Linked DNA regions of Homo sapiens: regions 1 and 3 are each reported to be linked to region 2. Evidence: microRNA targets listed by miRTarBase, many of them from high-throughput screens and not tested one by one. Region 2 holds a microRNA gene; each other region holds the end of a gene's coding sequence.

Region 1 (10,971 bases), not on the chromosome of region 2:
TTAAACCACAAAAACAGGAGGCAAAATCCATTGCCTTTCAGAGAATCAATCAATACTTTTAGGTATGACCATTATTACAATCATGAGAATCCTTTGCATTTTCCTGGGATCTTACATTTTACAACATAATTTTACATATATCATCTTCAGTCCAACCCTATAAGGTGTTAGTTTTGTCTTCATTTTACAGTTAAGGAAATCAAGCCTCAGAGAGATAAAGGTATCTATCTACAGTCATTTAATGAGAATACTGGCTCTAACTCTGAATTCAGTGTTTCTTCCACAACACTAGATTGCTTCTTGGCAAGGCTGGAAAGGATGACAGGACAACCTGGAGCAGGCTTATGAAGGGCACTGATTCACTTGAGATGGCAAAAGCAGCAGGGCTTAGTTGATAGTAACTTGTAAACGAGAGTCTTAGAACAAACTTAGTTTGTGTTAGACTAAACTATCCACAGGCATTCCACCAATACCTTTTCTGTGTGTCTCAGTGACAAAATAGGCCTTCTCACTCAGTACAGGAGTATTTTCTCCCTTAATTTTTTAAATTCAAAATATTTCAAAATATAATAAAATTGACTAAGTCAGCCAAGTAAAGGCCGGGAAACAAAGACTTTTTTTTTTTGGACCTCTTTTGACCTCTGGCTGTGTGTGCAGGTACCAGACGGAGCAGTCCCTGCGGCAGCTGGTGGAGTCCGACATCAACAGCCTGCGCAGGATTCTGGATGAGCTGACCCTGTGCAGGTCTGACCTGGAGGCCCAGATGGAGTCCCTGAAGGAGGAGCTGCTGTCCCTCAAGCAGAACCATGAGCAGGTAAGAGTCCCAGCCCCCAATATCCCAATACTGAGAGCTCTGTGATCCCCCTGAATAGGATAAGGTAGGATTTGATTTGCTAAGCACCCTAGGCCTAACAACATTTTGCTGGTTGCTCAAAACATACTTTGGGGCTTGTTGGGGAATGAGTGACAGCTTACCTTTTTTACATAAAGGAGTGTGGTAAGCTGACCTACTTCCCCTTGGGACCAGACATGTATGGCTGAAAGGTCACACAAATATCTTTAAACTACTGTCTACTGTTTGATGCTATCTATTAGCTTCTGAAGAGGTGCCAGGTAGGTTAATGACCAAGACTGGAAGGAGATAGAAAACATTCTTACACTCTGTTTCACCTAGATAACTAGAACTCAAGCTAGATAAATGGATAGATGGATGAATGGATGGATGGATGAACTGATGGATGGGAAAAACGGGAGAAATGAAATAACTCAAATAATGGTTGATTCAGATCTCATGGCTGAATGCAATACTACGAAATCAGATGCATGTCTCAAACATTAGACGTTTTCATGATGAAAACATGTGTCATACTCTAGTAGTATCCCATGAAATAAATAGGAGGAATGAAACCTGGTTTCTCTATATTTAAGTAGCAACAATTGTAAGCCAATTATCATGCCAGGCTTATCACTGAGCAAAGGGGAAATAAGAAAGAAATGATAGAATCTTGGACTGGGTAGAAATATTAGCAATCATTTAATGAAGCAGCCGTATCATACAGATGAGGGAAGGGATTCAGAGAAGAGGCCAGAATTTCCAGAGGTGACAGCTGGGCTTCAACTCATGTTTCCTAAGCTGCAATGCAATCCTCTTCCCATTATATTGAACTGCCTCAAAGAAGTTATTGAAAGACTTCTTTCTGTGGGTTTATTTCTTCCCTTTTCTCCATTAGGAAGTCAACACCTTGCGCTGCCAGCTTGGAGACCGCCTCAACGTGGAGGTGGACGCTGCTCCCGCTGTGGACCTGAACCAGGTCCTGAACGAGACCAGGAATCAGTATGAGGCCCTGGTGGAAACCAACCGCAGGGAAGTGGAGCAATGGTTCGCCACGCAGGTGGGCATCTAAGCACGTGGCCACTCAGGACCCGAGGCCCCCCAGGGCCCCGGAGGCAGGGTCTGATCCTTTCTCCCCTTGGGTGTTTCAGACCGAGGAGCTGAACAAGCAGGTGGTATCCAGCTCGGAGCAGCTGCAGTCCTACCAGGCGGAGATCATCGAGCTGAGACGCACAGTCAATGCCCTGGAGATCGAGCTGCAGGCCCAGCACAACCTGGTGTGTATTGTTCAGACCTGCTGGTGAGCGATGGGAACTTGGGAGGCAGAGTCTTGGGGATGCCCTTGGGGCCACACACTCTTCTTAGCTCTTGGAGCTTGTGAGTTTTTTCGAACCCCATGGAGGAACCCTATAAGGAGCAGCTCTCTGACATTCCTGATCTTTCCCACCACAGCGATACTCTCTGGAAAACACGCTGACAGAGAGCGAGGCCCGCTACAGCTCCCAGCTGTCCCAGGTGCAGAGCCTGATCACCAACGTGGAGTCCCAGCTGGCGGAGATCCGCAGTGACCTGGAGCGGCAGAACCAGGAGTATCAGGTGCTGCTGGACGTGCGGGCGCGGCTGGAGTGTGAGATCAACACATACCGGAGCCTGCTGGAGAGCGAGGACTGCAAGTGAGTACCTGGCGGACGGCACCCCTGCAAGGGACAGGCACTGTTCTACTGTAGGATAAAACAGAGACTTTGAAAATCAAGTTTCAGATGCCAATCTGTCTGTAGAGGCGAGAGTTTTATATTACAGCCGTGGGAAGTGTAGGATATTTGTTGCTAACATTATCTGGGCTAAAGATACTTTCTTTTACAAAAGATAGTCATGGGACTTGACTCCTTCCTCCAGTAGAGATTTTTTGGATGTTGATGGCCAAATAAATCTTTCTGTCTTCAGGACTGTCTTGTCACCACAAAAAGGAAAATGAAACTGTAACAATGATCACTTTTTCTGATTTAAACAGAACTTTCAAATCCACCGTTTCATTAATTCTTGTTAGAATCATCTGAGGCAGGCAGAGTGGGAATCATTATCACCTTCTTATAGATGAGCATTTGAGTGTCAATAGGGTTGATGATCAATAACTAACAGTACAGCAGTTGCCAGCGAACATAATATTTTTATGAACACAGTCTTGTGGAATTTTCATAATCCTGTGTGGTTGGTACTACCAGTCCTACCTTACAGGTGGGAAAGCTGAGGCTTAGAAGGAGGAAGTGACTTTCTTGTGTGTCTAGGGTCATACAAGGAAGGCTGGGATTCCACCTTACATGTTCTTTGCTCATTTCTGCCACTGTATCAGAACTCTGTAGAAGGAGTGATCCAAACAAGGCATGGCTTCCTAGGACATCAGAGAACGGGTTCTGCTTGTTTCTGTGTCTCTTTGGATTGAGTCTCCCTTGTTTGAATCACCCTTCTCATGCTGACAGTCTAATGCTTCTGCATCCCAGGCTGCCCTCCAACCCCTGCGCCACCACCAATGCATGTGAAAAGCCCATTGGATCCTGTGTCACCAATCCTTGTGGTCCTCGTTCCCGCTGTGGGCCTTGCAACACCTTTGGGTACTAGATACCCTGGGGCCAGCAGAAGTATAGCATGAAGACAGAACTACCATCGGTGGGCCAGTTCTGCCTCTCTGACAACCATCAGCCACCGGACCCCACCCCGAGGCATCACCACAAATCATGGTCTGGAAGGAGAACAAATGCCCAGCGTTTGGGTCTGACTCTGAGCCTAGGGCTACTTGATCCTCCTCACCCCAGGTCCCTCTCCTGTAGTCAGTCTGAGTTCTGATGGTCAGAGGTTGGAGCTGTGACAGTGGCATACGAGGTGTTTTGTTCTCTCTGCTGCTTCTACCTTTATTGCAGTTCCCCAAATCGCCTAATAAACTTTCCTCTTGCAAAGCAGACATGATTCTCATTTGTATTCATTCTTTTCAAAGTGTTGACTCTCTGTGTGCTTCTTATAAAGCCACTTGAAAGCAGAAGGAGGACTTTATAGGTTAATCATCTCCTAAAAGGTCTTCATCACCTTCATTAACATTCATTAAGCACAGTGAGTCCCAGCATCCACTTAGGCCAGCATAAAACAAGTAGGATCACTAGGACAAGAGGCCTCGTCTGAATATGATAAACATATTTCTCATGGGACCTTACTCAGTAAAATGCAACGGTGAGCATCTCTAGACAGTTCCACTCATTCTTTTAAGTCCCTAGCAGGGATGACAGAAGTTAATATTTATTGAACACCTACCAAATGCCAGGAATTGTGCTACTAATTTTTTCTCTTCCTCACAGTGAGGAAGAATCAATGGCAGGACTGAACCCAGAGTTCACTCTCTGCTTGTCAGTTACACATGAGGTGTGATTATGAGAGGACAAAATTGATTTCAAACAAGCACCCAGAGCTTATACATCCTCCTGGGGAGACACAATGCTGTTAGTGCTCAAAACATCTCTGAAACTCTCCTTTGTGAAATACTGAATAACTCAATACTAAAAAGCACCACCTTGCCATCTTCCATATTTGAGCAATACCCAACCTATTTTGAAAGTGTTTCTTTTCTCACTTGAATTGTTTAACCATGGGAACTACATATGAATTTCGGGACCCTCCCCCTCAAAGTTATTTAGAATCAAATTAGGATATTACAAGTCAGGTGTTTGCAAATGCTAACAGTGACCACGGTACTGGTGCCTGGCCCCTACTGGTGCCTGCTGATGTCTAACCAAGGTTAATGGCTCCCATCACTGTGCATGCTGTGGTTTGTGCCAAGGCCACTCCCTCAGTCTGCAGATTATTCCCAGATTAACCAATCTGCTAATTATGTCTTCTCTCCTTGAGATGAAGCTGATACTATCTCCCCTGCTGTGATGATGCCGGTTCCATCATCACATGTCAGTCTTAAATTCTTAAATTTTTTTTTTTTTTTTTTTTGGAGACAGAGTCTCACTCTGTCACCCCAGCTGGAGTGCAGCGGCATGATCACGGCTCACTGCAGCCTTGAACTTCCCAGGCTCAGGCTATCCTCCCACTTTAGCCTCTTGAGTACATGGGACTACAGGCATGCACCACCATGCATGGCCAATTTTTGTATTATTTGTAGAGAGGGGTTTCGCTGGGTTATCCATGCTGGTCTTGAACTCCTGGGCTGAAGTGATCTGCCTACTTCAGCCTCCCAAATTGCTGGGATTACAAGTGTGAGCCACTGCACCTGGCCAGTCTTAAATTCTTGTGCTCTCATATTCTAGTTCACTTAATATCTACTCCTTTGTTGTTGATGCTGCTGCAGCTTAGACAGGAGACCTTGGAAGACCGTCTGAGTGATACTCCATCCTCTGCTCAGAATGTCTTAGACCCAGTTTGTGGACTCTATTCTCTCTTTCCTCAGGGAGAGTTCATTCCCTGGAGCTACCTGCATGCCTCATGAAAACCGCCCTTGTTCAATTTATCCCGGCAGTTCTCCACACATGCTGGGATTACTGTCCACTGATAGTTACCTCTCAGCTACCTTCACCAGGAACAGTGCCTCCCAAATACCCAGTTGCATGCTTTGTGAGTGAGAGGTCAAAGTTCTCAACACAGTAAATACACTTTGTTTTTAGTGTTCAATTTATAAAATATTAAGCAAAACTTGTTTCTATGTTTGATGTTGTGTCAGCGGAAAACATGGGTCTAGGGAAAACAGTCCTTAGTTCTTATCTCTGCCATGGTGCTCTCCTTGGAGGATAAAAGAAAGGAGTGTCAGGGAGATCACTTTTTCTCAGGACAAAGCCAAATTGCTCTTCTGAAGTATCTGGGAAGGGTCAGTGTTACCACTGAGAAATAAAACTAAAATCCTAAGTCCCCCAGCTGACTGAACGGACTCTGTCTTGGCCAAGGGGACCGAAGAGAAACCTTAAAAACAGAGTCACATGTATGTTTATTGCAGCAATGTTCACAATAGCAAAGGCCTGGAATCAACCCAAATGCCCAATAATGATAGACTGGATAAAGAAAATGTGGCACATATATACCATGGAATACTATGCAGCCATAAAAAAGGTTGTGTTCATGTCCTTTGCAGGGACAAGGATGAAGCTGGAAACCATCATTCTCAGCAAACTAACACAGGAACAGAAAACCAAACACCGCATGTTCTCACTCATAAGTGGGAGTTGAACAATGAGAACACGTGGACACAGGGAGGGGATCATCACACACTGGGGCCTTTTGGGGGGTGGGGGGCTAGGGGAGGGATAGCATTAGGAGAAATACCTAATATAGATGATGGGCTGATGGGTGGAGCAAACCACCATGGCACATGTACACCTATGTAAAAAACCTGCACGTTCTGCACATATATTCCAGAACTTAAAGTATAATAAGAAAAAGAAAAAAGAAGGAAAGAAAGAAAAAAACAGAGTCCCTGACCATGACAGGATGGGAGGTCAGACATGCCTCAGTATGCCCCCTCCTTATTAACTTTTAACCAGAATTCTTTCCTAAGGAGTAAGCAGAAACCAGCTCTGGAAAATAAGAAACAGATGAATCATTCCTTTATCACCTTTAGCCCATCATCTGAAGCTGTGACTGGATTCCTTCCTCCCGCCTTTTGCAGTTTCAACACAGCAACCAACTGGCTGGCATTCCTTCCTGATAAGAGACCACCAACCATGGAGTGGTCTGGCCAGTCTACAGAGGATGTGCGGTGAGGGTTTTCACATCCTCTGCCTCACCTTTCAACATCAGAGGGCCAAAAACTCCATCCTTGGATCATGCTAATGCCACCATTTGTGAACATGCGACCCATGAAGAGGCATGAAGCTCAATTGCACATGCTTACATTTGTCTTTTCATAAATATTCATGACTCCTCCTGTAGCTTATTAAATAGTGCATTTGGCCACCTCACTCAGCATACATTCCTTTCTCACATTTCCCTCCCTCAAAATGCTTACTCTTGGCTTCTGCCAGAGGCTACGCTTCCCAGCTTGCAGGATGGTCAGCCTGGAGGCTGCAGCCTTTTATGAGAAATAAAGCTCTCCTTTCCAACTTTATTAATCTTGTGATTTTTCAGTTGGCACTACTTAGCTTACTGACTTGGCAAGATACGCTGGCTGTAAAATTCACCATGACATGATGACCTGCAATTGGCCATCTAGTGTGACAAGGCAATGTTGCCAATGAAATGTGGGTATAATCTAGCTTGTCTCACTTCATAATTTTAAAGTTTCTAGTGAAATTAAATATTTAAAAAATCTTTTTATTGGTCATTCATGTGTCTTCTCTATAAATCAATTCAATCCAATGTATAATCATTGAATGCTTACGATGGTGCCTGTTGGGCAGAGCACTGAACAAAACAAAGACCTGCTCTAAGAAGCCTACTTTCAAGTGGAAGAAGACAGACAATAAAAAGAGGCAAACAAGCATGACTGTGTCAAGCAATAAGTGCTGAGAGGAAATATAAAGCAAGGAAAGGGAATAGGAAGTGGAAACTTTTGGATAAGGTGGTGAGGGCACTCTATGTCTGATGAGGAGAAATAGGGTTTAATCTATTTACATGTAATTTTATTACTGACTTTTTGGACTTATTTTAAAAATCTTACTTTGTCCTTTCCATTAAGGATGATTTTTTTTTGTTGCTTATTGTTTCCTCAGTTCCTGACACCTGTGGATTGATCTTGTTTTCTTTGTTCCCCCTTTTAATATGTGTTCTTAATTTTTAAATGTGCACACTTGACTTAGCACTATCTAATTTAATCTCTTTCTTCTTGCATAAAAACAAGATCCATAGAAGATGTTTTTGTTTTTTGTTTTTAAGAGACAGGATCTAACTCTGTTACCCAGGCTGGAGTGCAGTGGTGTAATCATAGCCGATACAGTTTGGATGTTGTCCTTGCCCAAGTCTCATGTTGAATTGTAATTCCAAATGTTGGAGGTGGGGCCTGGTGGGAGGTGATTGAATCATGGGGGCAGTTTCTCATGAATGGTTTAATACCATCCCCCTTGGTACTGTTGTCACAACGGTGAGTGAGTTCTCACAAGATCTGGTTGTTTAAAGGTGTGTAGAACCTCCCCCACTCCCTTGCTTCTTCTCCCACCATGTGAGACACCTCGCTGCACCTTTGCCTTCCACCATGATTGGAAGCTACCTGAGGCTTCCCTAGAAGCAGAAGCCTCTATGCTTCCTATACAGCCTGCAGAACTGTGAGGTAATTAAACTTCTTTTCTTTGTAAATTACCTAGTCTCAGGTATTTCTTTATAGCTGTGTGAGAATGGATTAATACAATGGCCCACTGCAGCCTTAACCTCCCAGATCCTGAGGATCCTAACCTCAAGTGACCCTCCTGCCTCAGTCTCCGAAGTAGCTGGGACCACACATGCATGCCACCATGTCTGGCTAATTTTTTACTTTTTATTTTTGTAGAGACAAGGTCTCTCTATGTTGCTTAGGCTGGTCTTAAAATCCTGGGCTCAAGGGATTCTCTGTGTTGGCCTCCCAAAGTGTAGGGATTACAGGTGTGAGCCACTGTGCCCTGTCAGAAATTTTTGTTTATGTTCTTTACTTTACTTTTTTATCTTGGTTTATTTTATTATTTATTTATTTATTGACAGGATCTTGATCTGTTGCCCAGGCTGGAGTGCAGTGGCATGATCATAGCTCACTGCAGCTTCACCTTCCTTGTCTCAACCTATCTGCCTGTCACAGCCTCCTGAGTAATGGGACTACAGGCATATGCCACCATGTGTAGCTAATTAATTTTTTTTTTTGTAGAGACGAGGGTCTTTCTATGATGCCCAGGCTGGTCGTGAACTCCTGGGCTCAAGCGATTCTTTCACCTTGGCCTCTGAAAGTGCTAGGATTGTAGATGTGAGTCGCCATGTTCAATCTTACCTTATTTTTATGCTCCAAAATTTGGTCATTATTATTATTATTTAGAATTATCTACATGGTTACCAGTTTATTTGTTTGCAGTGTTTCTTGGACTTTATTCGTCCTTTCTGGTTTTAACTTTTTATTTTCTGAAATACATTCTTTGGTAGTTTTTATAGCATTTGCTATGGTTTGAATGACACCTCCAACCATTCACTACTACTTAAACCATTCACTACTACTTAATGGTCAAGTAGTGATTAGGCCATGAGAACCCTGCCTTCATCAATGGATTAATGTCATTTTATCATGGGAGGGGGGTAGTTATCATGAGAGTGGACTTGTTATAAAATGAGTTTGGCCTCCTTTTGCTCTCTGGCTGTCATGCTCTCTTGCATTTACACCTTCTACCATGGGACAATGCAGCATGAAGGCCCCCATCAGATACCAGCATCTTGATAGTGGCCTTCCCAGTCTCTAGAACTGGAGAAATAAATTTATTTTCTTTATAAATTATCCAGTGTGTGGAATTCTGCTGTAGCAACACACAGCAGACTAAGAATCTATAAGTGACAACTTCTCTGTTATTTTCTGAAAATGTCTTTTCTTAGTGGTCACTCTTACATGATGGTTTAGTTTGTATAAAATTCTAGGTTGGCAGCTATTTTCCTTCAGCGTGTTGGAAATATTATACCATTATCTTCTGGATTCTGTTGTTGATGCTGAAAAGCCTATTGCTAACCTGTATTTCCATTGTTGGTAATTCTTCTATTTTTTTCTCTCTTTGACTCTTTCTAAGATCATCTCTTTGTCTTTAGTGTTGTGCAGTTTCACTATGTTATTCTAGGGATGGCTTTGGTTTAGTTTTCCTACTTAGGACTTATGTGCTTCTTGATTGATTCATGTATTTCAATACCCGTGGAAAATTCTCAGCCATTACATTTTTTCAATATTACTTATATCTTATACTCCATTTTCTCCTTCTGAATTCCTTTTTTTAAAAAATAGCTTCACTGAAGTATAATGTATCATATATAATTCATATACTATAAAATTTACAGATCTAAAGTATAAAATCAAATGGTTTTTAGTATAATGAGAGTTATAACTACTACTACCATTTTAGAACATTTTATTACCTCTAATAGAAACCTTGTACCCATTAGTAGTCACTCTCTGTTCCCTGCAACCCTCCAGGCCCAGGAAATCATTGCTGTCTCTTTAGATTTGCCTGTTCTGGACATTTTATATAATGAAGTCATAGAATATGTGTTTTTTTGGCTAGCTTCATTTACATAGTATGTTTCAAGGTCCATCCATGTTGTAACATATAACAGGTATCATGGAGGAATAAGTGCATGATCCTAACCTAGGATCATGAAGATTTACTTCTACATTTTTTTCCTAAGTTTTCTAGTTTTAGCTGTTACATTTAGGCTGTGCTCCATTTTGAGTCATTTTTTTTGTCTGTGGTGTAAGAAAGGGGTCAAACATTTTATTCTTTTGCATGTGGATGTCTAGTTGTCCCAGCATTATTTACTGAAAAGATTATTTTTCCCCATTAATTATATTGGGACCTATGTTGAATATTAATGGACCATAAATGTGAGGGTTTATTTCTAGACTCTCAATTTTATTCTGTTGGTCTGTATGTCTATCTTTATGCCAATAGAATACTGTCTGTGTTACTGTAGCTTTGTAGTAAGTTTTGAAATCATGAAATGTTAATCCCCCTACTTTGTTCTTCTTTTTCAAGATCGTTTTGGCTATTCTGGTCTTATGCATTTCCACATGAATAAAAGGAACAACACGTCAAGTTCTATAAAACAGCTAGCTGGGATTTTGGTAGGTGTTGTTGAAAGTTTAGATCAACTTGGGTGATACTGCCATCTTAACTGTGGAGCCCAATGGAACATCTCTCCTGTAACACAGAGGTGTGCAGGAAAGAAGGACTGCACTCCTCAAGCCACCCTGCCTGAATCCTCCCTATGTAGAGGGAACTGGGGTTAGAAATGGGTGAGCTATGAAAAATGGGATCTGCTGATGTGTATTGGCTGCTGGGAGGATTGGGAACTGCCACTCAGCTGCCCAGCACATGGTGCTTCTGGAAGGCAGAGACATGAGAAATAATGGAGTCCCTCATTTAAACATCATAGCCCCCAGTGTTCTTATCAAGTTTCCATTTTTTGTGTGTGGTTGTTGAGTAAATGCTTCTCATTTGTTGTAAGCCCTT
Region 2 (10,601 bases):
TGGTCTGGAACTGAACCCATATATATCTGAGGTATGTCTATATGTGAAATGTGCACATAATGTTTTCTTGTGCTAAGTTCCCCAGCTTTTGAATTTTTATTTTTTTTTTAGATGGAATCTCCATCACCTGGGCTGGAGTGCAATGGCGCGATCTTGGCTCGCTGCAACCTCTGCCTCCTGGGTTCCAGTGATTCTCCAGCCTCAGCCTCCCGAGTAGCTGAGATTACAGGCACCTGCCACCAAGCCTAGCTAATTTTTTTTGTATTTTTAGTAGAGACGGGGTTTCACCATGTTGGCCAGGCTGATCTTGAACTCCTGACCTCAGGTGATTTCACCTGCCTCAGCTTCCCAAAGTGCTGGGATTACAGGCGTGAGCCACCGTGCCCAGCCAGGTTTCGAAAAATTTAAAGCACTTTTTATATTTTATACCTGTAATGGATTCAGTCCTGTGGGCATGGGCAATTCTTTGTGTGCCAGACATTTAATATCTCTGTCCTCTTCACCCTACAGCCAGTTAACCTCCCTGGCCAGTGTGACAGTCATTAAAAAAAAAAAAAATTGGCTGGGCGCACTGGCTCATGCCTGTAATCTCAGCACTTGGGCTGAGAGGCAGAGGTGGGAGGATTGCTTGAGCTCAGGAGTCAGTCTGGGCAACATAGCAAGACCTTGTCTCTACTAAAAATAAAAAATTAGCCGGGTGTGGTAGCACGTGCCTGTTGTCCCAGCTACTCTGGAGGCTGAGGTGAGAGGATCGCTTGAGTCTGAGAAATTGAGGTTGCAGTGAGCCGTGATTGCATCACTGCGCTCCAGCCTGGGGGACAGGAGTCTAAAAAAAAAAAAAAAGAAAAAAAAATGCCCAGCTACCCACTAGGAGGCAGTACTGCACCATCGAGAATGGGCCAGACTTTTTGCCTGAGGTTGCACATCTCTTCAGGGAATTGAGTCTGCACTGACTTTTCCACCATGACAATAATAACACATTAACAAAGATAATCATAACAGTAATTACTGATCCTTGAGCTTTATGTATCAGCATTTTGCTAAACATTTTACATATACATACTACCTACTCACTTAAACCTAACCACTTGAGGGAGGCTCTGTTACCCTATTTTGAAACCAAGGCTTAGATCCAAGACCCATGTTAAGTGCTTTGTGAGGAAGGGGTTTTACTGAAGTGCTGAAAGAATGGGATTTGGATAGGAAGTTGGATATATGAAGAGCCAAGTGCATAAAAACAAAGGCAGGAAACTAAAAGGTTCCATGTTGACAGGTTTAAAACCCTATGAATTTGTTCAGAGCTTTAGAATGGTAGGTAGACTAGTAGAATGTCAGAGCTACAGGGACCTTAGAGATTATCAGGGATGGTGATTTCCTTTTTCTTTTTCTTTTTTTTTTTTTTTTTTTGAGACTGAGTCTCACTTTATTTCCCAGGCTGAAGTAGAGTGATGTGATCTCGGCTCACTGCAACCTCCGCCTCCCGGGTTCAAGCAATTCTCGTGCCTCAGCCTCCTGAATAACTGGGATTATGGGCGCCTGCCACCACGCCTGGCTAATTTTTATTTTTTATTTATTTATTTTTTTTGAGACGGAGTCTTGCTCTGTCGCCCAGGTTGGAGTGCAGTGGCGCGATCTCAGCTCACTGCAAGCTCTGTCTCCCGGGTTCACGCCATTCTCCTGCTTCAGCCTCCTGAGTAGCTGGGACTACAGGCATCCGCCACCACGCCCGGCTAATTTTTTGTATTTTTAGTAGAGATGGGGTTTCACCGTGTTAGCCAGGATGGTCTCGATCTCCTTGACCTTATGATCTGCCTGCCTTGGCCTCCCAAAGTGCTGGAATTACAAGCGTGAGCCACTGCGCCCGGCCAATTTTTGCTTTTTTAGTACAGACAGGGTTTCACCATGTTGGCCAGGCTGGTCGGGAACTCCTGACCTCAGGTGATCTGCCTGTCTCGGCCTCCTAAAGTGTTGGGATTACAGGCGTGAGCCACCATGCCCAGCCAGGGATGGTGATTTTCAAACTTTAAACATAGTTAAAGTTTTTGGAATGAAATCTTATGTAGAATACAGAAAACAGCTAAAAATGGTATAGCTATAAAAAGTATAGGTTCTAATAATATTGGCTCATAAAGACAAGAGAAATCCAATTTCCTTCTGTTATTTTGGTTGAATAGAGAAGTGCAAATGGTAACATTTTTTAACACTTTATTTTGCAATCCCCGAGGTGACAGGATAGGAAGGTCCATCCCATAAACAACCTAGAAGCACAGACGTCAGAAGAACATCACCCCAACATGTTTATAGGCATTTGGTTGAATAGGTTTTATGTGGGGGAAAAAACAGAAAACTTAAAAATTGTTAGACCTGTATATATTTTCAACTCAACCAAGTGCCTGTGAGCCCTCTGCAGCCATAGTGGGAAAAGTCCTTATACTGCCCACACCTTCATGCTACAGATGAAGAGCCTGAGGCCCAGGGAGGAGGAGGGGGTGGCTGAGACTCAGGGAGCCTAGGGGGGCCATCTCCAGGGGCTCGGCCTCCTGCCACCCCATCCGGTGCCCTTTCTGAGTGACCAGTCATGACATCTGGTATGGCAGTGTGCTGGAGCCTGGCTGTTCAACCCCTCACCCTGAGAGGGCTCTGGCCACTTGCCCATCTCCCTGGCAGATAAAGCCTCAGACAGATGGCAAACAGTACTTGGCTCCAGGAATCAATTCAGGTCTGATTCACCAGTGGTTTGTGCCCGAGCCAGCGCCACAGGCTGTCTCCTTTCCCCTGTTCTATCACTCACTACCCTCACTGTGGCCAGGTTGGGACTCTTGAGCAACAGGCAGATACCTGTGATCTTGAGAATTGCACTGACTCTTTTGAGGGTTTTCCAGGCCACAGCAGGACTTGTCTGCCTCATTCCTCTGGGCAGCTCAGAGCATTACCCCATCAGCTGCAGTTTCAGTATCAGGGTGGGGCAGTGGTGTGGGGTGGGGCACCGTGTTACTAGGACTAGCCCTGTTGGCTGCAGACACATTGGCAACAGGTGGTGGCTCAGGGGCACAGAACAGGTGGACTACACATCTCCAGGATGAAGTGTCATTTATTGGCATTTGCCTTTTGAAAGAAGCAATCTACTTATAAATGGCAGGACCCTTTTTATTTTCTTTTTTGAGAAAAGCATTTTATTAAATCCATATTTGGAGATATGTTTTAGCAAAGTATAATTAGCATTTTTTGTTTAGAGGATGAATTGTGTTGCTACTCAATAGAAGGAGAATATGGCATACAAACAATGCTTTTATGCAGAAACATGTGTTTTTGTTTTTGAGACAGAGTCTTGCTCTGTTGCCCAGGCTGGAGTGCAGTGGCGCAATCTCGGCTCACCTCTGCCTCCTGGGTTCAAGTGATCCTCCTGCCTTAGTCTCTCAAGTAGCTGGGACTACAGGCATGTGCCACCACGCCCAATTTTTGTATTTTTAGTAGAGAGGGTTTTGACATGTTGCCCGGGCTGGTCTCGAACTCCTGACTTCAAGTGATCCACCCACCTTGGCCTCCCAAAGTGCTGAGATTACAGGCGTGAACCACCGCGCCCAGCAGCAGAAACATGTTTTAAAAGTACATTCAGGCTGGGCGTGGTGGCTCATGCCTGTAATCCCAGCACTTTGGGAGGCCAAGGTGGGCGGATCACGAGAGGTCAGGAGATCGAGACCATCTTGGCTAACATGGTGAAAACCTGCCTCTACTAAAAATACAAAAAATTAGCCGGGCGTGGTGGTGGGCGCCTGTAGTCCCAGTACTCGGGAGGCTGAGGCAGGATAATGGCGTGAACCCGGGAGGCGGAGCTTGCAGTTAACTAAGATCACGCCACTGCACTCCAGCCTGGGAGACAGACGGAGACTCTGTCTCAAAAAAAATAAAATAAAAAAGGACGTTCATACACTTAAGCTTTTCTGACTGGACACGATGCTGCTATTTAATAATAAACTTTTTTGATCTTAAAAGAATCCAGAGCAGGTCCCCCAGGAGCAGGTTCGTGGCGTATCACCAGTGGGGAAGGCTTTTCTCAGAGGCTCTGAGGCAGTGTCTCAAGAAAGGGGGGAGGCTCCGCTTTCTCAGAGTTGCAGTGCTCACCTTGCTGCTGCTGCCACACATCTGTATGCGCCTTCCTGGTACATCACCATCACCACAGGCTCTCATGATAGTGAGGGCTTGACTCCTTCGGGAACCTCAGTCTCCCCAGCTGGAAGTAGGAGCCATAATGCCTCCCTTTCAGGCTTGTTGGGACAAAGAGATGAGGTCACATAGGTGAAGCATCAGCAACTGTGCCTGGCACAGAGGAGGCCCTGAAAGTTGCCAAGCTCAGCGTTTTCCTTCACATCAGCTCTGCTCCACCCCCTTTAATTACTCACTTTTATAATAATTCAAAGGTAACCCATGACCATGGTAGAAAAATTAGCACATATAAGCAAAAAAAGGGAAAAAAGTGATTCAATAGCTTCTGGTTTTTCTAGCCTTTTTCTTTATTCTGGGTGCTTGGTATGGGAAGTTTCTTCATTTGTGTTTAGAGGGTTTTGTAGAGATGATATCATGGTCCCACTTTGCAAACGAGACAATTGAATTCCAGAAAGAGGAAGTGCCTTCCCCAAGGTCATGCAGATAAGGTTAAGCTGGGTTGAAACCCACAGCTTGAGTCCAAGCCCAGCACCAGAATATCAGGACCACAGAGGCATTGCACACAGGTGGGTCACAGATACCTGTCCCTGAAAAGCTCATGATACGGTATTTTCCTTGAAGGACTTAAACATTCCCCACTGAAAACATCCTGCTTTGTGACTTGCCCCATCCTGAAGTCCTGGGAGTGGACAGTTTGTGAATAAACCACCTGACTAGGTGAGGGCTGTCGGCTCCTGAGTTTTGCTCCCCCAGAGACACTGAGTATGCACCATCCGTGGGCTTGCCAGCATGAAAGTGCTATCATTGTGGGCTTTCCCTTCACATTTTTTTTTTTTTTTTTGAGACAAGGTCTTGCTCTGTCACCCAGGCTGGAGTGCAGTGGTGCGATCTTGGCTCACTGCAACCTCTGCCTCCTGAGTTCAAGTGATTCTCCTGCCTCAGCTTCCCAATAAGCTGAGATTACAGGTGCGTGCCACCATGCTCGGCTAATTTTTGTATTTTTATTAGAGACAGGGTTTGGCTATGTTGCTAAAGGCTGGTCTCGAACTCCTAGCCTCAAGTGATCTGCCCGCCTTGGCCTCCCAAAGTGCTGGGATTATAGGCATGAGCCCGGCCTCCCCTCACTTTAAAGGATGCTCCTTACCTGTTTTTGCTTTCTTCTGGTCTTTCCTGTGGCAACTGTTGTGGGGTTCCCAGCAAATATTTCAGTTTTTTCCTAAAAGAAGTAAGCGTGCACATTTCACTGGCTAAAGTACACTCTTGTGTTAAAATTCTGCATTGAAAATGGGTGAAGTCACCCTGGCAACATGGCAAAACTGCATTTTTACAAAAAATACAAAAATTAAGGCCAGGTGTGGTGGCTCACGTCTGTAATCCCAGCACTTTGGGAGGCCGAGGCAGGCAGATCACTTGAGGCCAGACATTCGAGACCAGCCTGGCCAACATGGCGAAACCCTGTCTCTGCTAAAAATACAAAAATTAGCCAGGCATGGCTGGGTGCGGTGGCTCATGCCTGTAATCCCAGCACTTTGGGAGGCTGAGGAGGACAGATCATGAGGTCAGGAGTTCAAGACCAGCCTGACCAATATGGTGAAACCCCGTCTCTACTAAAAATACAAAAATTAGCTGGGTGTGGTGGCACGCACCTGTCGTCCCAGCTACTTGGGAGGCTGAGGCAGGAGAATCGCTTGAACCCGGGAGGCAGAGGTTGCAGTGAGCCGAGATCACGCCAATGCGCTCCAGCCTGGGTGACAGAGCAAGACTCCATCTCAAAAAAAAAACCAAAAAAACAAAAAAGCTGCGTGGTGGTGCACGCTTGTAATCCCAGCCGCTTGGAAGGCTGAGGCACAAGAATCACTTGAGCCTGGAAGGTCAAGGCTGCAGTGAGCTGTGATGGCGCCACTGCACTCCAGCCTGAGTGAAGGGCAAGACCCTGTCTCAAACAAACAAACAAAAATCAAAGGATGAAGTCACGTAGATTTTGGGCAAATTGTTTTCCAAAATCTGTTAGCATAATTCTACAGAATGTCAAAAAGATAAAGACATCCACCAGTAAACCCTAATTGTTTGATGGTTGTAAGTAGTCACTTGAGATGTGACCGCAATAGGGGCCTGCCCATGGGGAAGGTGGCATACCCACCCATCTCCTGTGCCAACATGGCGTCCCTATCTCCTGGTAGCCCTGAGGCGAGGGTCAGGTGAAGGAAGTTGGGATCATCATTTACTCAGTTTGCCTATCTGTAGAAAGGGGGTATTTGGGCTGAAGGTGGCCTGTAACTCACAGGATGATCTGTCCCCTCTTCACACTGCACCCTGCAGTGAGGGGAGCAATGACTGAGTCAACCACTGCTTTAGGCAGCGGGGGTCCTTGATAAGGAGATAAGTTTGCCACACTGGGACTGATGGTCCTCAAGTTCTTTTCCAGCACCGATATTCTAAGATTCGGTGACTCCAGAAAAGCAATAAGGCCGTTGTGAGGAGGGCAGATCCAGAGGATGATCTTCCTGGAGGGGAGGGGAAAATGTTCAGTGCATACAGTGGGTAATGGTTCATCTGAGGTGGCATCAGACTGTACAACAAGCAGGGATTGTTCTGCAGGGTTCAGGCGACTGTTAGTATTTGATCAAGATTGGAATAGTCTCCTAAAACCTACTTGATCCTCACAGAAAAGTTCCTATCCCCATTGTGCAGATGTGGAAACTGAAGGTTAGAGATAGAAAGTTAGACCCTAGGGTGAGGCAATGGATGGCTAGGACTAGAACCCAAGGCAGGCTCCTAGGGCTCCTGCTTTTCCAGCACGCATCTACCATGCATATGTGCTACTACCAGGCCTGGCGCTAGGATTCACATCACTTTAGAGGCTGCTTGGTGAACATGGGCACCCACAAAAGCCCTGGAGAAGGCAGGTTCTTTCTCAGGAATGGCCAGTGGGTGTGAAGATCACAGTGTGGGAGAAAGATCAAGGAGGACTGAGGGCCACCCGACCAGGAATCATCTCCAGCAGCCTGTGGGTGACCGCTCGTCATCCAGATCAGCATCAGGAAGGTTCTGCACAACACCTCTAGGGAACACATGGGGATCGAGGTCCTGTGGCCGTCTTGGGGTCTGAAGATCTAGATTTAGCTTCTGGCAGTATCATGATGCAAACCTGGGCAAGTTGTTTTGTTCCCTGGACCTTGGTCTCTTCATCAGTGAAATGGAACTAATTATATTACCTCATAGGGCTATTATAAGGCCTAATAAAAAAAAAAAAGAAAGCATCCATAAACAATGTTTACTGAGCACTAGTAGTGCCAGGCACTCTTCACTTGTATTAACCCATTTGATCTTCACAAAAAATATTTTCTTTTTTGTTTGAGACGGAGTCTCCCTCTGTCGCCCAGGCTGGAGTGCAGTGGCGTGATTTTGGCTCACTGCAGCCTCCACCTCCCAGGTTCAAGTGATTCTCCTGCCTCCGCCTCCCGAGTAGCTGGGATTACAGGCGCCCGCCACCACACCCGGCTAATTTTTTGTATTTTTAGTAGAGACAGGGTCTCACCATGTTAGCTAGGATGGTCTCGATCTCCTGATTTCATGATCTGCCTGCCTCGGCCTCCCAAAGTGCTGGGATTACAGGCGTGAGCCACCGCACCTAGCCCACAACAAATTTTAGAGAGTAGGTACTATTGCTGTCCCCATTTTAGGAAACACAGAAGTTGGTTCCAGCCACAAGGAAGTGGCTTCATCCATCATCAAGAAGTTGATTCCAGCCCACGTGGATGGCTTTGAGGAGTTCAAGACTTTAGTGGAGGAAGTGATGAAAGATGTGGTGGAAATAGCAAGAGAACTAAAACTGGAGTCTGGAGATGTGACAGGCTCCACTTTCAGTTCTCTTGCTATTCCCACATGACCATGGTCCAGGATCCTGAGTTTATGTTCAGGAAATAAGACTCAGCGAAAACTTGCAGTCACTTTCATAATCATTAATGCAGAGATTCTCAATAAATTCTTAAGGCTCCACCACGCTCCAACATAAAGTAACACATTCAGTTTGTTACAGAAATGGTAATAAGGCAACACTATGCAATACTATGTGTACAATGCAGCACTTTGCAGTACCAAAATCCATGCCTACAAAGCACTGCACAAGAACACATACAAATAAAGGATATAGTAGAATGGCTGCCTGTGGGGTGGGGGCATGGAAATGACAATGGAGTGAGGGGGGAATACATGAAGCAAGAGGTGACTAGTCAGGACCAATGATGACAGCCAGCCATCACCTGGGGAATAGGAGGGACTCATCCCACTGCACCTGAGGACTAAAAATAAAATGGAATGGAAACAAGACCCTGGGTGAAATCACTCGGCCTGAAATACACTGGCCCTGGGCTCAAAGAGGAAAGGTGGGGACACATCCTGGGCTGCCTCATCAAACCAGGAGCCTGCAAGAGCATCCCTGTGTGTGTGTGGAGGGGGTGAGGACAAAGGGAGGGTCAACCACACCCAGTTCTGTGAGCTCAAACACCAGACTAAAGGCCACAGGCAGACCCTCCAAGGCCTCAGGGAAGGAGTGAAGAGAAAGGCCTGGGTGGTCAGTGTCAGAGGCGGCACAGTCACATGCTGTCATGCCTATTTCACCAAGGTTTAGCCAAATGCACTATTAGGGTGTCAAGAAAATATGGATATAGGGCAACAATCCTGTGATTGTATGATGACTGTAGGCTTGATCATCATAAGGGTCCTGCCATATGCTGGTCCAGTTGGCACACCCACCCATCTCCTGTGCCAGTGGAGTGTGCCTGTGAAACAGCAGTCAGCTCTTCTGGTGGCCCTGAGGATCGGGGTGAAGGAAGAGTGGATCTTCATTTAGTTAGTTTGCCCCTCTGCAGGAGGAGGGGAGTTGGATACAGACCTCTCCTAACAACCCGCCTGGCTACTGGAACCTTCCTGAGAAATGTGGTTAACCTCTGGGCGCAGAGCCAGCAGTTCTAGGCTCCCGTCACAAGGGGGCAGGATGGGGAAGAAAACAGGTTCTCAATTCCAGGCCTTGGACCTGTCAGGTTTGCTGGCAGGGGCAGGAAGGAGGGTGGGGTCGGGAGTGTGTGGTGGTTGATGAGGGATCCAACCATCGTTCCGCAAGAGCGGCTTGTTTATTAAACATGAAATGAGGGAAAAGCCTAGTAGCTCCATTGGATTGGGAAGAATGGCAAAGAGAGACAGGCGTCATTTTCTAGAAAGCAATCTTCACACCTGTTGGTCCTCACCCATTGAATGTCCTCACCCAATCTCCAACACAGAAATGAGTGACTGTGTGTGCACATGCGTGTGCATGTGTGAAAGTATGAGTGTGAATGTGTCTATATGGGAACATATATGTGATTGTATGTGTGTAACTATGTGTGACTGGCAGCGTGGGGAGTGCTGGTTGGAGTGTGGTGTGATGTGAGTATGCATGAGTGGCTGTGTGTATGACTGTGGCGGGAGGCGGAAGGGGAGAAGCAGCAGGCTCAGGTGTCGCCAGAGAGGCTGGGAGGAAACTATAAACCTGGGCAATTTCCTCCTCATCAGCGAGCCTTTCTTGGGCAATAGGGGCAGAGCTCAAAGTTCACAGAGATAGTGCCTGGGAGGCATGAGGCAAGGCGGAAGTACTGCGAGGAGGGGCAGAGGGTCTGACACTTGAGGGGTTCTAATGGGAAAGGAAAGACCCACACTGAATTCCACTTAGCCCCAGACCCTGGGCCCAGCGGTGCCGGCTTCCAACCATACCAACCATTTCCAAGTGTTGCCGGCAGAAGTTAACCTCTCTTAGCCTCAGTTTCCCCACCTGTAAAATGGCAGAAGTAACCAAGCTTACCTTCCCGGCAGTGTGTGAGGATGAAAAGAGCTATGTACGTGATGCACTTAGAAGAAGGTCTAGGGTGTGAGTGGTACTCGTCTGGTGGGTGTGGAGAAGACATTCTAGGCAATGAGGACTGGGGAGAGCCTGGCCCATGGCTTCCACTCAGCAAGGTCAGTCTCTTGTCCTCTGCACTCCCAGCCTTCCAGAGAGGACCTTCCCAACCAGCACTCCCCACGCTGCCAGTCACACATAGTTACACACATACAATCACATATATGTTCCCATATAGACACATTCACACTCATACCTTCACACATGCACACGCATGTGCACACACAGTCACTCATTTCTGTGTTGGAGATTGGGTGAGGACATTCAATGGGTGAGGACCAACAGGTGTGAAGATTGCTTTCTAGAAAATGACTCCTGTCTCTCTTTGCCATTCTTCCCAATCCGATGGAGCTACTAGGCTTTTCCCTCATTTCATGTTTAATAAACCTTCCCAATGGCGAAATGGGCTTTCTCAAGAAGTGGTGAGTGTCCCATCCCTGCGGTGGGGACAGGGGTGGCAGCGGACAAGCCTGCCTGGAGGGAACTGTCAGGCTGATTCCCAGTC
Region 3 (10,971 bases), not on the chromosome of region 2:
GAATCTTATGAGACCACTGTTGTATATCTGGTCCATCACTGATCAAAATGTTATGTGGTGTGTGACTATACTCCAATTCTGAGTTTTATTCTATTTTATTGAACTATGAATACTTTATGCTAAAGAAGATCATGTTCCAATTCCTCTTGCTTTGTAATCTTTTCCATACATCAAAGAACAATCCTGTTTTTCAAGCTTTTTGGCTTTTCCTACAATTCATTCTCAGAGATGACCTTTAGAATAGACTCACCAGGCTCTTATTTCCAAAGCCTGTAGGGATTATGACTAAATCTGCATTTAAATTTAACCTCAGTGAACTGCCCACTGAGGGGGGCCACTCAATCCAGCTGGCTTGAACAATCTCTTGATGACCAGAGACTGGGGGGTCACTCCAGCTGCTCTCCCCGACCCCAGGGACATCACCATGGCCCACTGAGCATTCCTGGGGCCCCAGGCCTGCCTCATCTTCCTTCCAATTGTCTCCTTTCTAACTTTCTTTGGGGAAGGTGGCACCTAATTTGAATGCCCTAGAGGTTGACTGTTTACCTGCCGGCTTTACCCAGGGACTTGCAGCTTCCAGGTAGGGTAGGAGGAATTTTTTGTTGGAGGCATTTGCTGGATGCCTTCTCCATTGTTTCAGTGGTATTTCCTCTTAACAAATGCAAACGTAACAGCTCACACAATAGAACTTCAGTTTTCAATCACACCAAGTCCAAAATCAGCACTCTTGTTCAGAGAGTGGCTTCCAGGGACTTCAGTTTTTCTATAAATGGCTTCTCAGTTCTCCTTCAGGTTTCCAAGGTCAATCTGCTCATTAGCAGAAAGGGAGAGAGGATGGAGAAGGCACACTGGCTTTTTGGCCACCTCACCTGTGGCAAGTGATGCAACAATTCTGCCCCACTGGTGACAATGTGTCATGAAGGCCCCATTTGTGCAAATGGCTGGCAGGTCTCATCTGCCTGGACAGTTGTCTCTGTCATCTTTCCTCTGCTCTGGTCCTGACAGGCATCTAGGCAACTCTGTTGCATCCTAAGGCTTTGCTTTCCCATCTTACCTGTCCATTTGTCCAGCTGTCTACTCACGTCCTGAGGGCCAAAACCTAGTCACCTGGCCACAGCTAGCTAACAGGAAAGTGGAGAAATGAACTCTCCAGTTACAGCCTGAACAACACAGTGAGACTCTTTCTCTACAAAAAAAAAAAAAAAAAAAAAAAAAAAAAAAAGCTGGGCATGGTGGCACACACCTGAAGTCCCAGCTATCTGGAAGGGTGAAGGGGGGAGGATCACTTGAGCCCAGTAATTGGAGGTTGCAGTGGACTATGATTACACCACTGTGCTCCAACCTGGGAAACAGAGTAAGTCTGCCTCTAAAAAAATAAAGAAATCTCATTAGGTACCCAGCTGAGACTTGAGGAAGAGGGAATCCTACAAAGAGGGGGAACACTGTAGTGCAATTAGCAGTCTGTTGCAGAGTTCTGTCATGCGATGCAGATACTCATAGATGGAGTATTCGTTCAACAAAGCAAGGATGTGTCCAACAGTTTGAGCAGCCCAACCATTTCCATGAAAGCTGGCACAGGGCAAAGCTGCTAAAAAAGGCACAGACATCACTTAGGCACCTGAGCCATGAAAATGTGGCTAAAACTGAACAGACTATTTATTATCAACATTGGTTACTTTTTTTTTTTTTAAAGATGGAGTCTCTGTCACTCAGTCTAGAGTGCAGTGGCGCAATCTTGGTTCACTGTAACCCCTGCCTCTGGGTTCAAGCAATGCGATTCTCCTGCCTCACGCTCCTGAGTAGTGGGGACTATAGGTGACGTGTGCCATCATGCCTGGCTAATTTTTGTATTTTTAGCAGAGACGGGATTTCACCATGTTGGCCAGGCTAGTCTTGACCTCCTGACCTCAAGTGGTTCACCCAGCTCGGCCTCCCAAAGTGCTGGGATTACAGGTGTGATCAACGTTGGCTTCTGCAAGGACCTGGCTATGATTTGAATGGTTGTCCCCTACAGAACTAAAGGTAGCATTTTTAAGAGGTGATTGGGTCATGAGGGCTCTGCCCTATGAAAAAGTTAATGTGTTAATGGGTTAATGGATTAATGGGTTATCAGAGGAGTGAGTTAGTTATCACTATAAAAAGCCAGGTTGGCTCTCTCATGAGCCTCCTCACAATGTGATGCCCTCTGCACCTCAGCACTCTGCAGAGTCGCCGCCAGCATGAAGGCTGCTAACAGACGCAGCCCCTAGACCTTGGACTTGCCAGTCTCCAGAACTGTTAAATCAATGTCTTTCCTTTATAAATTACCCAGTTTTAGATATTCAGTTACAGCAACAGGAGATGGATTAAGACAGACCCCCTCTTATTTTACCTGATTTTCTTTCCTCTTCATACCAGACCCCACCCCATTCCCTCCCCCATAGGTGTTACATGAAATTTATGACGTTAAGTAGTGTTGTGAACCTATATAATAGATGTGTGTGTAGGTATGAGAAATTTTGACATTTTGTTTAGCTATATTAAATATTGTTGAATCAGTTTTCCCATTCATATCTAAGAGATTTTATCAAATGTGCTACATGCCAGTCTAGCATTTTACTTCTAACTGCTCACAGCCTTCTACTGCTTGTTTCACATTTTACTAACCTCTGTTAAGGATGTTCACCTAGGATGTCTCATAAATCTTGTTACGAAGAAATTCCAGTCTATAAAGACAAATTTGCAGCCAGGCGTGGTGGCTCACGCCTGTAATCTCAGCACTTTGGAAGGCCGAGGCGGGTGGGTCACGAGGTCAGGAGATTGAGACCATCCTGGCTAACACAGTGAAACCCCATCTCTACTAAAAATACAAAAAATTAGGCGGGCATGGTGGCGGGCGCCTGTAGTCCCAGCTACTCGGGAGGCTGAGGCAGGAGAATGGTATGAACCTGGGAGGTGAGCTTGTAGTGAGCTGAGATCGTGCCACTGCACTCTAGCCTCGGTGACAGAGTGAGACTCTGTCTCAGAAAAGAAGAAAAAGAAAAAAAGAAAAATTTGCTCAATCTAAAGTAAAACCAACAAGTAGAATATATGAGGATATTCAGCAAATAATAAAAGGGTAGTATACTAAAAAAAAAAAAAAAAAAAAAAAAAAGGATATAACCTATACCTGAAATTAGTGGTTACAAAATGCAAGTTGAAACAACAAAATACCCCATTCACATCCTTCAGAACAGCAAAAATTACAGAGACATATAGTAAATATTGGTGAAGATGTGAATGGTAATTGAAAAGGTTTCGTGCTATAAAATGACACCCATTCTAGGGAAGTGACCAGGCAGTATCTTTTAAAATTAATATTGGTCTGGCACAGTGGCTCATGCCTGTAATTCCAGTACTTTGGGAGGCCGAGACGGGCAGATCACAAGGTCCGATTGAGACCATCCTGGCCAACATGGTGAAACCCCGTCTCTACTAAAATACAAAAAATTAGCTGGGTGTGGTGGTGTGTGCCTGTAGTCCCAGCTACTCAGGAGGCTGAGGCAGAGGAATCACTTGAACCCGGGAGGCGGAGCTTGCAGTGAGCCCAGATAGCACGACGGCACTCCAGCCTGGTGACAGAGCGAGACTCTGCCTCAAAAAAAAAAAAAAAAAAAAAAAAAAAAAAAAAAAAAAAATTAATGTCTGTGCCTTATGCAATGTATACCATCAGTTTATATGTTCCAGGGAAGTTCATTCACATAAGGATATATATACAAGGAATTTCATCATAACAACAGTGCAGCAATTAGAAGTGCTGGTTTTGCAGGTAGAACATTTGATAAAATCATTTAGGTTATGAATGAAAAAAAGGATGGAACAAGATTTTCTTTTTTTTTTTTTTTTTTTGAGACAGAGTCTCACTCTGTTGCCCAGGCTGGAGTGCAGTGGCACGATCTCAGCTCACTGCCAGCTCCGCCTCCCGGGTTCACGCCATTCTCCTGCCTCAGCCTCCCGAGTAGCTGGGACTACAGGCGCCTGCCACCATGCCTGGCTAATTTTTTGTATTTTTACTAGAGACGGGGTTTCACCGTGTTGGCCAGGATGGTCTTGATCTCCTGACCTCGTGACCCACCCGCCTCGGCCTCCCAAAGTGCTGGAATTACAGGTGTGAGCCACCACGCCCAGCCCAGGATTTTCTTTATTTTTCCATTTGGCACCACATCAATCTCTTCCAATTTGAGGCCTTTCGTTCTTTTTTAATTACAAGAAAATTTTAATTCGTGTATTTTCCTCGTGTGTTGTCTCTTTTTCTTTTGGGAATTGTAGTATATGGTTATTTCTACTATCCTCTACATCTCAGTTTTTGATTTTTCACTTTCCATTTCTTCATTTCTTCTGGTGTCCTGGAGGAAATATTTGCCTTTACAACAGAGCCTGCTAACTCGTTCTTTGGGTGTATCGCATCTATCAATCTCATCTATTATTTCCTTCATGTCGATTATGCATGCTCAACAATCCACTTTTCTTTTGGTAACTATATTTTTACACACACCCCATTCATCTTTATATTTTTCTTCAAAGATACGTATTAAGGCGGGGCGCAGTGGCTCAAGCCTGTAATTACAGCACACTGGGAGGCCGAGATGGGGGGGATCACTTGAGGTCAGGAGTTCAAGACCAGCCTGGCCAATATGGTGAAACCCCGTCTCTACTGAAAATACAAAAATTAGCCAGGCATGGCGGCACGTGCCTGTAATCCTACTCAGGAGGCTGGGGCAGGAGAATCGCTGGAACCTGGGAGGTGGAGGCTGTAGTGAGCTGAGATCGCACCACTGCATTCCAGCCTGGGCGACACAGTGAGACTCCATCTCAAAAAAAAAAAAAGATATGTATTAAGAACATTTTGAAATCTGTCTGGATGCCCATATTTCATTAAGTTAGGCCTTCTCATGTAAATGGTATTGTGTACTGTCTCTTAGTACCAATTCCTCATGTGTCTGACTACTTTCCTGAATGTTTACTTGGATACTGTAAATCTTGGCTGAGAATGAATAGCAGGGAGAAGGCCTAATCCTCCTGTTTCTTCCTGTTGGGTGGGTTTAAGTGGAGGAGTGTGTTACAGAAAAAAATCCCCTATCACCAATGCCTGGAATGAGACCCCCCCCCGCCCCGCTTGACTGACCCTCAGGATACCACTTGACATGATCACCCTAAATACTGCCTCCTTAAGATGTCTCCAGTCGACTGGGTGTGGTCGCTCATGCCTGTGATCCCAGCACTTTGGGAGGCCGAGGCAGGCAGATCACAAGGTCAGGAGATCGAGGCCATCCGGGCCAACATGGTGAAACCCCATCTCTACTAAAAATACAAAAAATTAGCTGGGAGTGGTGGCTGGCACCTGTAGTCCCAGCTACTTGGGAGGCTGAGGCAGGAGAATCGCTTGAACCCGGAAGGCAGAGTTTGCAGTGAGCCGAGATCGTGCCACTGCACTCCAGTCTGGTGACAGAGCAAGGCTCTGTCCGTCTCAAAAACAAACAAAAAACAAAACGAACAAACAAAAAAATGAATGTCTCCAGTCGTAGCAATGACTGGCTTTTGAAGTGAGGAGAGGATGCTCTAATGGAACCTAAGTGCTCCCATAGGACCGAGCTGCTCTCCTATCTTATGAAGGCACCATGGTGGGCTATCATCTCCTGGGCATACTACAGAGGACCATAAATGTATAGGGAAAAAGATTACAATTCAACTACTCTTTAAGATTTGTTCTGTCTGCCATTACCTTTCCCGCAAAAGAGCCCCATTCACATCCTTAGTTCTCTGGACCCAAACACTGCTCTTATTTCCGTGGCACCTCCGGGCTTGCACTGTAACAAGCCAGCAGCCCATGCTAGTGCATCAATTTGGCAGGAATCATAGACTTTATATTCAATGAAGGGAAAATCAATTTATTTTTGATGTAGTTATCTCTGTGATAGGAAGAAAAAAGCAATATAATTTTAAGAATGTATTTCCTGGTGGGCTTCATTTTAAGATGGGCCAAAAAAATCTCTTAATTTATGAAAACATTGGCATCTTTTAAACTATAAACATGTTACTATGAACACTGACTACATTACTGAAGAGGCAGTTCAGGACCACTTATATACGTACCAGACCCTTTGATGTGCAGGCAATCCATAGGATAAGAAGAAAATGCCAAGCCATTTACAGTTTTCAAATATTTTACTGAAAATGCATATTGTACAATTAATGTATAATGACACACCAGTGTGAGAAACCTCCATAGGTATCATTTCCACAAATATGCTATGAATATAGAGTTCCTACACAAAACTATACAACTTACCAGATGTAATTCCTGTTACGTACCATACTCACAATCGTCTTGAAGAATATGGAGAAAAAGTGCTGAGTGACAAAAACAGGAGCCATGTGTGATTTTAATAAATGGAAAACACGGCATTTCAGCTCAGTGGTAAAGCAGTAAACCAATCAGATGCTTAGCTATCAAGTAATCATGTGAGAGGAAACAGAATTAGATCCTTACCTCATACTATATGTTGTCAGCTAACACTGTAGCAGTGGTATATGAATCACATAAATTACCTCCAACAAAATGTATTCCATGTATTAGAAAAAAGGAGGTATGCCTAACATTGTGTCACGTTCCAAAGGTGAATTTTGCAGGTCAACGATATGACAGTTCAAGGAAGCATACATTTTATTGTTTCAAGTTGATTTCTAATGCTCAAACTATTTACGTCAAAATTTACAGAAAATAAATCTCTATATCAACAGCTTAAAATAAATGACTTACCTAAAGTCCACTTCTGAACTGCATAACTCCTATAAAGGTTTCAGTCTGTACCAATTAGAATGTCTTCAGTTATTAGTAATAGAGCATCCTAAATCAACTGGCTTAAAAATAAGTTTAGTCTCTCACAAAAGAAACAGTCCAAAGGAGGAGTGGCTACAAGGCTGCTTGGTTTGGTGGCTCAAAGACATCATCCAGGTCTCAGGGTCTTTCAGTATTTCTGCTCAGGCCATGATTAAACTATAATCCATTGCTGAAAGATGGTTACCAGGCACCACATCCAGACAAGGTACTGTTCACCACAAGATTCCACTTCCCTTTGCTTGAATCCTTGGGCCTTTGAGAAAACCTTTTCCAGAAGTAGTCTGTCAGGTATATCCTTTGTTTTATGTCTAGAATTGGGCCCTGTGACCACTGTAAATCAACTGCTGGCAACGAGAAGGGGAGTGTCACTGGTTAAAACTAATCAGGATTTATCTCACTTCCTTTTGAGGATAAATGGATAACCAAACTCCGCCAGCAGAGTAAGGGAGTGACTAAGAAAGTCACTCGGCAATGTCTGCCACAGACCCTTGTTAGAATGTGTTCTTAATTCATTAACAGGAAGGAGTAGAGCACAAGGTTTAAAACCAGTACGACATCAAATGAAAACACAGTGAATTCCTATGTTAGAAAGTCACTCGGCAATGTCTGCCACAGACCCTTGTTAGAATGTGTTCTTAATTCATTAACAGGAAGGAGTAGAGCACAAGGTTTAAAACCAGTACGACATCAAATGAAAACACAGTGAATTCCTATGTTACACAGCATTGTGCTCTGCACTGTTATGTAAGTGTCCAAATAAAAAACAGTAGAAAAAAAAATAGATACAAATGGGAATATTTTAAGTATATCTTAAAACTGTATAGAGTGCAATGATTTTCTCACTCTTGGAAAACTGGCATTATTAATTTTAAATTACCAAGCAAAGTTTTCTATCTATTTTATACATGGATATTTATCTCTCTGGCTGACTCAGATACAGTTGAAAACATTATAAAAGCATTGGTCCTTTAGAGCTGATATTGTTCATTAAGAATGATCAATGCATTAAATCCTAGAGAAGAGTGCAAGAAAAAGTATACTTTATACCTATCAAATGATATTAATGTAGTGCTGTTTAGAATACTCTTACTATATGAATTACAAAATAAGGATACAACGTTTTTTCAAACATGATTCGAAGTGAACATACAATTCCTGTAATGTACTGTAATAAAAACAACCCTCTCCCCAAACATAAGTCCTATGTTCTTTGGGAACTGCTTACATGAGTTTAAGGTTACCGACTTAACTAGCTATCCTGATGACTTTACAGTTTCTATTTACACAAGAAGTATGTTTATTCACAGCAGGAATCTTCTATTTCTTTTTTTTTTTTCAAGTTTGCTATTGTATCAGAAACATATCTTTTAGTATTAACAGTTTCCAAAGGATTATGTCTTCCACATTCCTTATACTGATAGATTTCCCCTTGGCTATGATTTCCCTGATATGCAAAACAGTTCCAATCCATGGTGACATGTATATACATTCTTAATATTTATAAATTTTTACTTGTCTATAGTCTAGTATTGTTATACCATGTGGTCTTGTTATAATCATGGTTTCCATTCTGTGAGTCTTCAGATTATGAGTCCAACACACAAGGGGATGTCCACACTAACCTGTGTGAACTCTCTGATGTACAAGGTGTTTGACTTCAGGCAGGAGTTTCTGATTCACTATACTGAAAGGGTTCTCTGATATAAAATGAGGTCTGACTTCAGAGAAGCCTTCCCACATCTATTACATTCATATTGCCTCTCCTATGAATTCTCTGATGGCTGTTGAATGCTGATTTGTGGTAGAATTTTTTTCCACATTCAGTACACTCATAGGGTTTCTCTCCTGAATGAGTTCTATAATGTACAGTGAGGTATGACATCCGAGAGAAGGCTTTTCCACACTCATTACATTCAAAGGGTTTCTCTCCTGAATGAATTCGATGATGTATAGTGAGATAGGACATCTGAGAGAAGCACTTCCCACATTCATAACATTCGTAGGCTTTCTCTCCTGTGTGTGTTCTCTGATGTCGATTAAGGGCTGAATTCTGGCAGAAGGTTTTCCCACATTCACTACATTCATAGGGCTTCTCTCCTGAATGAATTCTATGATGTATAGTGAGGTATGACATCTGAGAGAAGAATTTTCCACATATATAGCATTCATAGGGCTTCTCTCCTTTGTGTATTCTCCGATGTCTACAAAGGGCTGAGTTCTGGTAGAAGGTTTTCCCACATTCACTACATTCATAGGGTTTTACTCCTGAATGAGTTCTATGATGGATAGTGAGGTATGACAACTGGGAGAATAACTTTCCACATTCATTACATTCGTAAGGTTTCTCTCCTGTGTGCACTCTCTGATGTCTCATGAGGGCTGAATTCAGGTAGAAGGTTTTTCCACATTCATTACATTCATAGGGTTTCTCTCCTGAATGAGTTCTATAATGTACAGTGAGATATGACAACCGAGAGAAGAATTTTCCACACTCATTACATTCATACGGTTTCTCTCCTGTGTGGGTCCTCAGGTGGGTCGTGAGAGTAGACTTGCGGCAGAAGCATTTCCCACATTCACTACACTTGTAGAGTTTCACACCTGTGTGAATTTTCTGATGGTCATTAAGTGCTGACTTCTGCGAGAAGGTTTTCCCACAGTCATGACAAACATAAGGTCTCTCTCCTGAATGTGTTCTCTGATGTTGTGTGAGGTGTGTCTTCTGGCAAAAGGATTTTCCACAATAACTACATTCATAGGGCTTCTCTCCTGAGTGAGTTCTCTGATGCTGAATGAGGTGTAACTTCTGGTAAAAGTTCTTCCCACATTCATTACATTCATAGGGCTTCTCCCCTGTGTGTGTTCTCTGATGCACAGTAAGGGTTCCCTTCTGGCAGAAGGATTTCCCACACTGATTACATTCGTAAGGTTTCTCTCCTGTGTGAGTCCTCTGATGTATAATAAATTTTGACTTTTTACAGAAGGATTTCCCACATTCACTGCATTCATAGGGCTTCATTTCCATATGAGATGTCTGATGTACAGTGAGGTCCGACATCTGGAGAAAGGCTATTTCAGATCCATTCCACTTATAGGGCTTTTCTTCCATGTGATTAACAAAAACAGTGTCCTTTTGGAAGGCTTTCTGGCATTCAATATATTCAAAAGGTTTCTCCAAAATACGAATTTTCTGATAAAGACTTTCTTCATTTAGAGTATAAGGTTCCCCATTTTGATTAAATTCATAAGCTTGATCTCCTGGATGAGTTTTCTCAAGCTTAATATGGAGGAGTGATTTCCCACATCCACTACATTCATCAGCTTTCATTCTTGCATAGCTTCCATCACTACTAATATATTCTGAAACAGACGTTAAACACTTTTCACATGAGTCACAGAGGCTATTTTTATAGGCTATTTTTCTTGAAGGAACAGGGTTCGTTTCTACATCAAAAGTTTTACCAGGAACATTACCTCTCTCTTCAATCAGGGTCTCAATGAACACAGTTTGCCTTGAAGGTTTATTTTCCTCTTCCTGGATTCTCTCTATTAGGTCATCAGTTTGCCAGACTTCATCTAAAGAGAGACAAAATTAATAAACTTTTGTACATCTTCCTATATATATATGATATGGAATGAGATTCATGATTTGTACACACGCATCTCATTGTGAGTAGATGCTAGCTTCATGAACAGATGAAAATAATTCCAAGTGTACTCTTCTCCTTTATGCTTTTGCTTAAAATTACACACACACAAACACACACACACACACACATCCCCCTCTAGGAATGGAGAAAGGGGGAAGTAAACTGACAAAAACACATGCACTTTTGATCTACTTTATATTTTGTTCAAAACTGGGAATAGAAGATAAAATATAACACAGAACAATGACTGGTAGGCGAAGAATGCAGGATGAATGGCTGACAGGGTAGAGCGATAAGGAGTGCTGTTGGACAAGGAGGGTCATAAGATGTATTCAATTAGGGATTCATTTAGGGGGAGGTAAAGCTGTACTTTATACCACATCACTTCATACCAAGTTGAGAGAGATTACAATTTAAGGCATTAGCACTGTATACTAAGATTTTTGTGGTAGCATTTTCACT

Evidence for each region. Region 2 holds the annotated microRNA hsa-miR-3925-5p (AAGAGAACUGAAAGUGGAGCCU, at 8,017-8,038, opposite strand). A microRNA usually pairs through its seed, bases 2 to 8, with sites in the 3' UTR of a target mRNA and lowers its output. Matches are read on the target gene's strand: a 7mer-m8 pairs with bases 2 to 8, a 7mer-A1 pairs with bases 2 to 7 and ends in A, and an 8mer does both.
Region 1: miRTarBase lists KRT33B as a target of hsa-miR-3925-5p. Seed matches in the 3' UTR shown: 7mer-m8 at 3,717-3,723.
Region 3: the mRNA of ZNF12 is a reported target of hsa-miR-3925-5p. Seed matches in the 3' UTR shown: 7mer-A1 at 7,873-7,879.

The regions. Positions count from the first base shown.
Region 1 is chr17:41,356,313-41,367,283 of GRCh38, reverse strand. It overlaps KRT33B (keratin 33B), which reads left to right. Exons shown (of 7, transcript NM_002279.5): 3 at 658-814; 4 at 1,731-1,892; 5 at 1,984-2,109; 6 at 2,285-2,505; 7 at 3,331-3,786. The coding sequence ends at 3,448. Among named protein-coding and RNA genes, the nearest start is that of KRT33B, 8.0 kb to the left of the region's middle. RefSeq lists an enhancer at 2,176-2,677.
Region 2 is chr6:36,614,464-36,625,064 of GRCh38, forward strand. It overlaps MIR3925 (microRNA 3925), which reads right to left and starts at 8,049; the gene lies at 7,973-8,049. RefSeq lists an enhancer at 602-651.
Region 3 is chr7:6,682,269-6,693,239 of GRCh38, forward strand. It overlaps ZNF12 (zinc finger protein 12), which reads right to left. Exons shown (of 5, transcript NM_016265.4): 5 at 6,165-10,435. The coding sequence ends at 8,580. Among named protein-coding and RNA genes, the nearest start is that of ZNF12, 19 kb to the right of the region's middle.